Linked DNA regions of Homo sapiens: region 1 is linked to region 2. A link means that fine-mapping ties the variant in region 2 to the expression of a gene that starts in the linked region. Tissue or cell type: whole blood. Region 2 holds a variant in brackets; the other region holds the start of a gene. All regions are shown on one strand. Distances are from middle to middle.

Evidence for each region. PIP is the estimated chance that this variant, and not a neighbour inherited with it, causes the effect.
Region 1: TTLL3 starts here. The variant in region 2 is fine-mapped to the expression of TTLL3 in whole blood (TOPMed, PIP 0.92).

What each region holds. Positions count from the first base shown.
Region 1 is chr3:9,808,841-9,811,740 of GRCh38, reverse strand. TTLL3 (tubulin tyrosine ligase like 3) reads right to left here and starts at 1,479. Exons shown (of 14, transcript NM_001387446.1): 1 at 1,347-1,479; 2 at 1,032-1,120. The coding sequence starts at 1,079. All of the region lies in intron 4 of ARPC4-TTLL3 (ARPC4-TTLL3 readthrough), which reads right to left. RefSeq lists a silencer at 1,298-1,777 and an enhancer at 2,258-2,407.
Region 2 is chr3:9,833,973-9,836,872 of GRCh38, reverse strand. It overlaps ARPC4-TTLL3 (ARPC4-TTLL3 readthrough), which reads right to left. Exons shown (of 12, transcript NM_001198793.1): 12 at 517-2,192. The coding sequence ends at 2,052. It overlaps TTLL3 (tubulin tyrosine ligase like 3), which reads right to left. Exons shown (of 14, transcript NM_001387446.1): 13 at 1,966-2,192; 14 at 508-1,779. The coding sequence ends at 1,384. Among named protein-coding and RNA genes, the nearest start is that of RPUSD3, 8.6 kb to the left of the region's middle. RefSeq lists an enhancer at 1,295-1,794. The variant C/T (reference allele first, on the strand shown) is at 1,638.

The DNA.
Region 1 (2,900 bases), 25 kb after region 2:
CCCAGAGGAGGTAGGCAGTGGCCAGACTGTGGAAGGCCCTGCAGGCCTTGGAACGGACTTGGATTTCATACTAAGAGTGTCATGAGCAAAAAAGGCTAACTGAGGGAATCTTTCTAAGCTTGGCTTGCTGCTGTATTACAAAAAGATGAGGGGACAGGATGGAGGTAGACCAGCTAGGAGGCTGTCATAGTTTGCCTAGGAGAGAAATCACAATTACTAAAATGAAGGTGGTTACAACACAGACGGGAGAAGGTGCTAGAGTTGAGAATCGTTTTGGAGGTGGAGATGACAAGTGGTTTTGCTGATGGAATTAGACCTGTGGGTGAAGAAACAGAAAGATGAGATTTCTGGCGTGAGGAACTGAGAGATGGGAAAGACTGGAGACTGGGGAGGACGACAGGTTTGGGCAGGAAGATCAAAGTCTGGTTTGGGACATGAATTTGAAATGCTTGTTAAGTTTTCTGGGTGTAGATGACAGGTAGGGGCTAGATCTACGGGATGTGGAGTTCGAGGCTGGGCTGGAAGGGGCACGGAGAGGGTGCAGCACACTGACTGGACTCAGCCAAGGACACAGCCAAAGGAGACAGACCTGGGGAAGGGGCCAGGGGGCCACTAATGGCTGAGGAACCTTTAAAGGCCGCTGAAAAGCAGCAGCCAAAGAGGGAGAAAGGAAAACTAGGAGCGTGCAGTCAGACAGCCAAGAGGAAGGGTGTGTGGGGCAGCGGTGTCGAAAGATACAGGGTGCCCAACCGAGATCAAGACCGAAAGGCACTGCTGGGTTTGGCTCCCTGGAACTCACCAGGCACCTTGATTAGAGTGGGACATCGCAGGGAACCAGAGTGGAGGGAGCCCAGAAGTTTGGTGCTGAAGGGGTAAACGGGGAGGTAGTTGAAGATGGGTGTGGTGGTTGAGGATTTTTGCTATTGTTTTTTCTTTTGCTTTTGTTTTTTAAGGATATAAGAAAACAGCGCAGGGAGACAGGCTGAGCCGCTCCCAGGGCCCTTTCTAAGCGCCCCTGCCCCTCCTCTGACCTTGACAGCTCTCTCCACGTAGATTTTGGCGTTTCTGAGCCGGTTCATGTGAGACGCCTTGGAGGATCCTCGCCAGAGGACCGGGAAACCTGCAGAAAGATGCGGAATAGGGGCGGGGTACACTGAGGCTGGGCCTAGGGTCTCGGCCTAGGATCTTTTCTGGCCGCCCATAGCCACGCCTCTTTTCTTCCTCCTGCCTTCATCCAGATGCCCACCCTCAGCCGCTCTTCTCCCGACCCCCAGTCCCTCCACCCCAGCGTCTTGTCGTCCTCGCAGCCGCTGTAGGCCAGAGCGAGCGGGCCGCACGGGCCTCACCATCCTGCGGAGAGGGGTCGAGGACCGGGGTGTGCGGGGGGCCGAGGGGGTGGGTATCCGAGGCGCCCTGGGCGTGGGTGCCTGGGACCAGCGTCTTGAAGGCGCCGCTGAGGCGGCGCGCAGGGGCGGGGCTGCCCGCCTGGCATCTGCCGCCTGCGTGACCCTCCTCGGACTGGGCGGAGGCAGGGCCGGCCCATGGCAGCCTCCTGGGTGGACGGAACTCGGAGCGGCGCGCCGAGGGGAAACTGGTGCGTGGCTCGAGCGGCTGCGGCTTCCGCAGCCAGTTGCACACCGCGCCGCCCTCCTGGCGGTACCAGGAGGCCGAGCCCCGGCGCCCGGGCCCCAGCTCCCTCGCGCTCAGGAGCAGTGGCGCGTCGGGGCCCTGCATGCGCCCCTCGCCGCGCTCGCCCTCCCAGGGCCCCTGATCCCGCGCCCCTCCGCGTCGCCGCCTCCTCTCCCGGGAAGTTCCTGCCTAGGCTCGAGCCTTGTCCTCCGTTCCAAGCCCCGCCCCGTTTGCTATTGCCTTGGAAACCATTCCCTGGGCACCATCAGACCGCTCGGGGCTGGTTGGGGGCTGCGATGGGCCCCGGGGCAGTCGAGCGAGGGCTTCCTTATGACCTGGGGCCTCACCCAGACCCTTGATGAGCAGGGCACTGAAGGCGGAAGAGAGCACTGAGCCCCAGTTAGTTAGTGTTGCGGTTCCTTATCCAGTACTTCCTGGTGCCACCGGCCCTAGGGTTTGAGTGATTCCACAGTATTTATAGGCGCTAACAAATGGCCCCTGACCTCATGGAGCTTACTAAAAGCCCAGTGTGAGGGGAATAAAAAGCAAGTAACAAAGGAAGAGAATAGTTTACAGGTATAATAAGGGCAATGAACAAGCAGAGGTGAAACCAGGAAGGGGGCGCATTTTAGATAAAGTGGCGCATTTAAGCTGAAGGTGTAAATGCCAGGAGTCAGGAGTCACCAGGGAAAGGGGAGGAACTGCACTTCAGGGAAGGGACAGTCCCAGCAACAGCCCTGAGAAGGGTAAGAACCTCTGTGCGAACTACAAGACAGCCAGGGTGGCTGGAGCCTGGTGAGGCCAGATCAGACCTGCTGGGCCTGGCAGATGGGCCTAGGGTAAGGTCCTTAGCGAGGGCAGCATATGGGGGTAACAAGAAGGTGCAGAGCACACCCTCCCCAGAAACTGGAAATGGAAAAACAATCATTTGAGTCAACTGCGAAAGAAATGTAATAGTTCACAACAGTTATGCCTGGCCCCCAGGCTAAGACTGTAAGCAACCTTTTTGGAAGCACTGGCAAAATATTATCCTCAAAAGTCACAGGGGAGGTAAGGCTCCAAGATGTTAAACAATTTGCCTCAAATCACAGAGCAGAGGCAGCACTGGAACCCAGGTCTGACTCCAAAGCCTGTCTCTTAAACACCTGTTATCACTCAGGTTGCCTGCCAGTCACAGAAGGACCACACAGGGACAGTTTGAGAGGCAAACTCTAGCAGTGCCCCCGCAGGCAGAGTCGAAGAGTGTCCTGGTAAGAGCCCAGCTTTGTCAG
Region 2 (2,900 bases):
TGGGATTACAGGCACGTGCCGCCACACCTGGCTAATGTTTTTGTTGTTGTTTTGTTTTTGAATCTCTGTTTTTAAAGCAGGGTCTCAGTATGTTGCCCAAGCAGGCTACCCTCCAACTCCTGGACTCAAGCAACCCTCCTGCCTCAGCCTTATCTTTCCTTTTTTTTTTTTTTTTTGAGACAGAGTCTCAGTCTGTCGCCCAGGCTGGAGTGAAGTGGCGCGATCTCAGCTCACTGCAACCCCACCTCTGGAGTTCAAGCAATTCTCCTGCCTCAGCCTCCCGAGTAGCTGGGATTACAGGCACATGTCACCATGCCCGGCTAATTTTTGTATTTTTAGTAGAGACGGGGTTTCGCCATGTTGGCCAGGCTGGTCTCGAACTCCTGACCTTAGGTGATTCACCTACTTCAGCCTTCCCAAAATTCTAGGATTACAGGAGTGAGCCACCGGCCCTTAATCCTTTCTTATGAAGACACTTGCCATTGAATGTAAGCACCACACTGGTCATTGGGATTATCTCATTTAAGATCTTAAATTTATTTACATCTGCAAAGACCTTTTTTTTTTTTTTTGATTTAGGGTTTCACTCTGTCTCCCAGGCTCAGAGCGCAGTGGCGTGATCACAGCTCACCACAGTTTTGATCTTCCCAGGCTCAGGTAATCCTCCCACCTAGGCCTCCCGAGTAGCTAGGACTACAGGTGTGTGCCACCACACCCAGCTAATTTTCTGTAGAAACGGTTTCACCATGTTGCCCAGACTGGTCTTGAACTTGCGGGCTCAAGCGATCTCCTGCCTTGGCCTCTCAAAGTGCTGGGATAACAGGTGTGAGCCACCATACCCAGCTACAAAGACTCTTTTCCCACATAAGGTCACATTCACAGGGTCCAAGTAGACATCTCTTTTCAGGGGACCACAGTTCAACCCACTACAACTAAGCAGTGCCACACTTTTCTTCAGGTGGGTGTGGCTTATTGGATGTTTCATTTTTAGGTGACCTTGGCCCCTTGCTGAAGAAGGGATAGACCCATGCCCTCTGCAGAAGGGCTGAGGTTTAGGCAAGGCCAATTCCTTCCCCTGTCTCATGGCATTAACGTTCCTATGCCCGGTAGGTGTCATTCTGCTAGCTTGGCTTGTTCTCTGGGGTTGGGGGGCTCCCAGTGCTCGGCAGTTCTGGCAATATGTCCCTGCGTCGACTCACTGCCACGTGATCTTGGGTAAGCCATGCCTCCTCTTTCAGACTCAGTTTCTTCATCTGTAAAGTGAAGGCTCACGCTCCCCACCCCTGGATCGGAGATGCTGGGGGAGTCCCTAAATAGGAAGCCCCATGTCTGTCCTTAGGTGGGAATTCTGGGCCTCGCTGCACGGAGGAGCTGCTGATGGCCTCAGGCTCTTGCTGTGGACCCTGGGGTACACGGCCTCGCCCCATCCACTCTTGACCCTCCAACAGCAATGGAGTCAAGCCCCAAATACTTCACTTGTTTCTTTTTATTTGGTGTTGGATCCAGGACAAGGGCAGTGGGGAATCGAAGCAGGGGCTTCCCTAGCTTCATATCCCCCAGGCCCCTGCGCCTCTGGAATGTACCAACAAGGGGCAGGGGTTTCAGGGGGCTCAGCCTCTTCATGGGGCAGGCCTCAG[C/T]CCTGGGTTTGTCACAGTCTGGCCTTGAATTTGCCTTTGGCCTTGACCTTCCGACAGGTGCTAGGAATTGTTCCGACTTCAAAGGGCAGAGGCAACAAGGCACTTCCAGCTGGGGGCCTCGGAGGCACAGGAGAGCAGGAGCCTCGGTGTGAAAGGAGGGGAGAAGAGGGAGATGATCAGAAGTCTGTGGAGGAAGGGGCTTCTGAGGGAGACCAGCTCTTCCCTTGGGGTGCCAGCCAGCCTGGGAGCTGCCCTCTGCCTGTGCCCTCCAGCCCTGACCCCGTGCTCAGCACTGTCCACTGGGTGTGAGTCACAGGTCGAGGCCCACCTTTCTTGGCTTCAGGATGCTGGGTGCCACCTTGAAATCAAGGTTCGGTGGGAGGGAAATGAAGACCTTAGCCGTGGGTAGAGTCCTCAAGGCCTTGCCTGTGGTCGACAGGGCCTTAGTGCCCACCAGCTTGCTGTGCTGTCGTCTGAGGACCTGGCCCTGGTGTCGGAGTACATGGGGAGAAGGCAGCTGGGCCTTGGTGTGGAGGCTGGGGAAGTGGTGACGGGCTGTGGGAGCAAGAGAAGCTGTGAGGCCCTGGGGTGGGGCCCAAGGTGGCCTAGCTGCCCTAACAGGTACGTGTGGAGGATGGGGGGATATGGAGGGAATGGGGTGAAGGCCGACGGAGCCCTCCCGGTTCCTCCTCCAGAGGCAGTGAGAAGAAAACAGGGTAGAGTCCAACAGACCTGGGTCTGCATCCCAGCTGTGCCCCTTCTGAGCTGTGCAACCTTGGGCAACTTCCTTAAACTTCCTGATACCTCGGCTGGAAAATGGGGATAATAGCACCTACCTTGCTAGGTTGGTGTAAACACTAAAGGAGCTGGGCAGGTAGCGGTATGGGGCAAACTGTTAAGTGCTGGACATGTGTTAGTTCTTTCCCCGAGAGGTGACTGCTTGAAGGCAAAGGCAGAATACTGCAGTGGGAAAAGCGTGGGCGCTGGAGAGAGCAACCTGGGCTTAAGTCCTGGCATCTTTGAAATCAGGTCATCTTTGAAATAAGTCACTCTGTGAGGCAGAGTGACTACTTTGGAGGAGACAATACTCATTTGGCTGGGTTTTTTTTTTTTTTTTTTTTTTGAGACAGAGTTTTGCTCTTGTTGCCCAGGCTGGAGTGCAATGGTGCAATCTCGGCTCACTGCAACCTCCGCTTCCTGGGTTCAAGCGATTCTCGTGCCTCAGTCTCCCAAGTAGCTGGGATTATAGGCACCTGCCCCTAC